Linked DNA regions of Homo sapiens: region 2 is linked to region 1. The links come from fine-mapping of genetic effects on gene expression. Tissue or cell type: uterus. Region 1 holds a variant in brackets; the other region holds the start of a gene. All regions are shown on one strand. Distances are from middle to middle.

The links. PIP is the estimated chance that this variant, and not a neighbour inherited with it, causes the effect.
Region 2: NCK1-DT starts here. The variant in region 1 is fine-mapped to the expression of NCK1-DT in uterus (GTEx, PIP 0.99).

What each region holds. Positions count from the first base shown.
Region 1 is chr3:137,470,679-137,473,362 of GRCh38, forward strand. No RefSeq gene overlaps it. Among named protein-coding and RNA genes, the nearest start is that of SOX14, 290 kb to the right of the region's middle. RefSeq lists an enhancer at 307-366. The variant ATGACAGCACTAAG/A (reference allele first, on the strand shown) is at 1,398.
Region 2 is chr3:136,860,535-136,863,218 of GRCh38, forward strand. NCK1-DT (NCK1 divergent transcript) reads right to left here and starts at 1,529. Exons shown (of 3, transcript NR_110177.1): 1 at 1,213-1,529. NCK1 (NCK adaptor protein 1) reads left to right here and starts at 1,674. Exons shown (of 4, transcript NM_001291999.2): 1 at 1,674-1,819. RefSeq lists enhancers at 603-652, 1,213-1,272, 2,333-2,412, 2,423-2,542 and a silencer at 1,633-1,692.

The sequences.
Region 1 (2,684 bases):
TACTCTCTTAATTTGGAATCTAAGGTTCTTGAACTGGACTCATCCCAGTTTTAGTATTTGGAGAGATCAAATACTTAAACGCACCTATGTGTTCACAGAAAGCTTTTTGGAGAATGATAAAGCCTAAAGAGCTCTATCATTAAATCAGATCCTATTAGACAAAGTATTAAGCAAAGGCTGATCAAATTGCTCATACGGTTCATATATGATCTCACCTTCCACCCTAAGTAGTAGAGCAAGGTTGGCTGACTCCATGGAGCAATGAATTAGGGGAAGAATGCTTTTGCCACATCTCAAAAGATCACCAACTGACACTGGAAAGGGCTCTCAACAGAAAGATCCCTGCTTTTGTTTACCTCACAGGTTGTGCGGTGGAAGAGAGAGGACTTACTTGGCCAAGCTCTGGAAATAGAAGCCCTATCTATGGATGCTGTGACATAAACCTAACTTTGGTTGGACTGGCATTAGTCCAGCTTCAGGAGATGAATTGTTATTGTTTAAGCCAATCGTCAGCTTTCAGGCGGGCATGTGAACGTGTTCTAGACAAAGAAACATAAAGAGAAACATAAAGAGAAAACTAGGGGATTTCAAGAAGGATTTCCCTCCCCTATAAAAAGTGAAAGCCCACAGTGAAAAATCCCCTGTCCCACACTTGCCTGCTTCCTGCTTGGCAGTTTATGTTAAACCAATCCTTCTCAAAGCGTGGTCCCCACTTTGAGAACCACTTGGGTACTTGCTAAAAATGCAAATTCTCAAAAGTTAACATAGCAGGCCTGAGACTAATTTCCTTAGAAGGCCCTACTTGAGAAGTTAGCACTGTTTGGTATCTAGATTTCACCCTCTAATCAGAGCGACCCACTGTGCCTAAAATGTACAAACAATGCCATTTATGCTGAACACCTACTTTCCTTCTGGGAGTCTGACATTTTGGTATATGCTAGGCAGAGGATGCCTATGTGACTAGCCCCTAGTGAAAATCTTGGTCACTGAGTCTCTAATGAGCTTCCCTAGTAGATAACATTTTACATGTGTTGTCACAGCTGATTGCTGGAGAAATTAAATGCATCCTGTGTGACGCCACTGGGAAAGAACTCTTGGAAGCTTATGCCTGGTTTTCTCTAGGCTTTGCTCCATGTGCCTTTTCCTTTTTTGCTTTACATCCTCTTCCTGTGATAAATCTTAGCCGCGATAACTGGAAAAAACTAAATCCTCAGTTAACCCTCACCCCCCACCAGACCTACTCAGTCATGAGCTCTGCAGGTGGAACCAACTACTGCGTTTTAACAAGTCTTCTAGGTTATTCTGATACACATTGAAGTTTCAGAGCCTCTGGTAAGGCAGTGATGCTTGCAGCTACTGCAAACTTCTTGGCCCTTGACCTCATGACCCCAGTAGTG[ATGACAGCACTAAG/A]TGACTTAGAGCCTGAATCCTTATGCTTCTGAATTAACCAATTCAGGACTTATCTACCTTTAGATTTCTTGAATGAGAGAATAATATATTATTGGCTGGGTGCAGTGGCTCACGCCTGTAATCCCAACACTTTGGGAGGCTGAAGCGGGCAGATCACCTGAGGTCAGGAGTTGGAAACCAGCCTGGCCACCATGGTGAAACCCTGTCTCTACTAAAAATATACAAAAACAATTAGCCAAAGGTGATGGTGGGCACCTTTAATCCCAGCTACTCGGGAGGCTGAGGCAGGAGAATCACTTGAACCTGGAGGCAGAGGTTGCAGTGAGCTGAGATTGCACCATTGCACTCCAGCCTAGGTGACAAGAGCAAGACTCCCATCTCAAATAAATAAATAAATAAAGTAAAAATTAAAATTAAAATTAAAAAGAATGTATTGTCTAACAACTTATTAAATTAAAATAAAATTCGCAGCAAGTTCTTTGACACTGCTCCAATCAAGAGGAGACCCTTGTGCAGGCCTCTTGAATCTGGGCTTGCCTGTGTCTGCTTCAGCCCATAGAACAGGGTGGAAGTGATGCACTTTCAGTCCTAGGCCCAACTTTTAAAAGGACTGTCAGTTTTTGCTTCCTTCCTCCTGGAGCCCTGAGCCAACATGAAAGAAGCTCAACTGCCCCCAATGCCACTGCACTGCTAAGAAGCTTAAGCTAGCCACGTGGAAATGTGGTCAAAAATAGAGTCTTACATGGCCAGTCCCTAGTTCCAGCCCCTTGCCCTTTGAGACCTCCTAGGGGGAACTCAGGGGTTGGGCAAACTATGACCTACAGGCCAAAGCTGGTCAATTCCTTATTTTTGTATGTTTTTTGAGCTATGGGTGGTTTTTAGATGTTTAAATTGTTTGGACAAAATCAAATGAAAAATATTTTGTGACATGAAAATTTTATGAAATTCATGTTTCAGAGTCTATAAATAAAATGTTTTGAACACTCACTTGTTTGCATATTTTCTCTGGCTGCTTTCATACCAGAGCAGCACAGTTGAGTAGTTGTGATAGAAACCATGTGACCAGCAAGCTCAAAATATTTACTATCCAGTCCTTAAAAGAAAAAGTTTATTGACCCTTGTTATAATTGATTGACCTGCTTTACTCCACTTTCTCAAGAATAGAAAAAAGACCATATGCTTCCAGATTTTCCAGTTATTTATGTACATATTGTTGGGCTCTTATAAGCAGGAGGTGCAGTATCTCTTTCCTAAGACCATTGTCCCTTCCCCAG
Region 2 (2,684 bases), 610 kb before region 1:
GTTCTGATGTCTGGAAAAGTTCAAGACTGAGCATCTGCATCTGATGGTAGCCTAAGACTGCTTCTACTCATGCCAGAAGGCAAAGGAGAGCTGGTGTGTGCAGAGATTACATGGCCAGAGAGGACGCAAAAGAAGAAAGGAAGTGCGACGTTCTTTTTAACCAGCTCTGGTGGAAATAAAGAGAACTCATTTACCCTCTCCCCAGGGAGGACATTAATCTATTCCTGAAGGAACCACCTCCATGACCCAACACTGCCCATTAGTCCCCACCTCCAACATTGGGGATCAAATTTCAACAGGAGGTTTAGGGGAACAAACATCTAAATTACAGCACAGGCCAACCACATGCATGCATTACCAATCACGTAAATAATTTTGAAGTTAAATGCAGAAAACTGCAAACTTTTGAGGCTGATATCCAGGGCCAGGATTAAAATAAAAAGTATTAATGCCTTAAACAGTATTTACTGACCATCTACCCTACTGCAAGGCCCTAGGGAGAAACTGAACAGACATGGTTACTGATTCAACGGAGTTTACAATCTAGGTAGACATACAGGCAAACCATTTCAATAGCTCGGATGGAGAAAACACCTGTGCTCCAAGGAAGGTACCTAACTGAGCAAGCTTCCCTGAGGAGCGATCCTAAACTGTGCCACAAAGATGGTTAAGAAGAGATGAGGCGGCTGGGCGTGGTGGCTCACGCCTGTAATCCCAGCACTTTGGGAGGCCGAGGCTGGCGAATCACGAGGTCAAGAGATCGAGACCATCCTGGTGAAACCCCGTCACTGCTAAAAATACAAAAACATTAGCTGGGCGTGGTGGTACATGCCTGTAATCCCAGCTACTCGGGAGGCTGAGGCAGGAGAATAGCTTGAACCCGGAGGCGGAGGTTGCAGTGAGCCGAGATCGTGCCACTGCACTCCACCCTGGCGACAGAGCGAAACTCGTTTCAAAAAAAAAAAAAAAAGAGGCAGGTTACGGCGCGGGGGCGGGGAAGGGGGCCTGCAGCACCGGCGAGGGGAAGAACCAACTTACTGATGCCTCAGCCAGTGGCTGGAGCCCTAAGAATGGACAGACCTGGCTCCGAAGGTCCTCTTCATAACACTACTGCCGCCAAGAATGTAAGCTGCCCAAGCACGAGGACACTTTTAGAGGGCCCTCAGACTCAGCTTCTTTTGGTCTGTGCCTCAAATTAAGCACATGTCTTACATTTCTCCCAGGTCCCAATTTTCAGGTCTGCTTTTCTTTGTTTTTCTTTGTCGCTCCCCGCTCCTAAGAACCTTCGGCTGGGATGACATTCTTCAGGTGCAGAAACCAGGGGGAAGCTCCCAGAGCAGTGGGGGCTGAACTCAGGACACAGTCATTTTTGCTGTTAAGTCTCTCCTGCGGCGCTGAGGAGGCAGGCTCAAAGTAACCAACCAGAGCAGCCGCAGAGGGAAAAGCTAAGACAGTTCTGGTCCGGCCCAGCGCTTCTCACCCTCTAGCTCTCTACTCTCCGCCGCGCAGCCTCCGCTCCCTCCACATCAGGCACGGCGCTTGATTGACATGAGGGCCCGCCCAATCCCAGTGCGGCAGAGACCGTTGTCGCGTCAGGGACCGGGGAAGGGGGCGACTGAACCTATCAGATTGGGTCCAGAGTGGGTTTCCTGCCCGCGCGGATCCGCCTGCCCACCGCGCGTGCCCCGCCTCTCTCCCAAGAGCTACGCGGCGGCGGCGGAGCGCAGGCCTCGTGCCGTTACGGCCATCACGGCGGCCGCAGTGGCGTCCTGGAGCCCTCCTCAGGTGAGCTGGAGCTGCCCGGCTCGGCAGCGGGAAGGTGAGACGGCCTTGTTGGCAGGCAGACACACACACACCCCCCTTCAGTCCGCTGTCCGTCCATACAGCCTGTTACTCGCTGCGTCGCTTCCTCTTCTCGCGCTGAGTTAGCCCCGGGGGCGCCGTCTGCAGGCTCGGAGCCGAGCCGGAGGGGGCGCGGAGGCTGCTCGGAGGGTCCAGACTTCTGCACCGGGATTCCGCGAGACCCTCGGGCCGTTGCCCCAGGGAGCGTGACCCCGCGGCCTCCTTGTCAGCCCCTGGAGCGCTGTGTCGGGCTGAGAGCCCGGGCGGCCGCCCGTGCGAGCCTGGGAGGTCGAGTGTGCGGCGCGCTGGTTGACTTGTCTGTTTTCTCATGAAAAAGTCCTTTTGCCAGCTGTGGCGTAATCCGAGGCCGGGAAGGTAGGGACGTGGTAGGAGGAAGGGCGCTCTCACCTCCAGCCCGAGAGGAGGGGAGGCGTCAGCCTGCGCGGTGCTGCGGGTGGACATCTTCGGGACGCGCCCTCTCCCCTCCCCCCACCCACCGGCCGTTTTCTAGTCTGGGGCTGTGACTTTAATGGTCTGGACCTGCTTCAGATTCGTACGCGAGTTGCTGGGGCTGTGAACTTTTGACTTGAGTTGTAATATGTTTGGTAAAACAAAAAACCATTTCGATAGGTTTTGTAACCTTTCTTCTGTATTAACATACAAGTTAAATTCGCCGTTAGAAGCTCAGGAAGCTGGGTTTTGTTCAGGGGTGAGGACGTAACCGTAGGAACGCTCTCGGTGTCAAACTGATGGACCCGGAGTCACCTGAAAATAATTATGCACGTTAGATTAGGTAAGAAGCCCTAGAAATTAGGAAAGAATTAGGTTAAAGAGAATTTCCT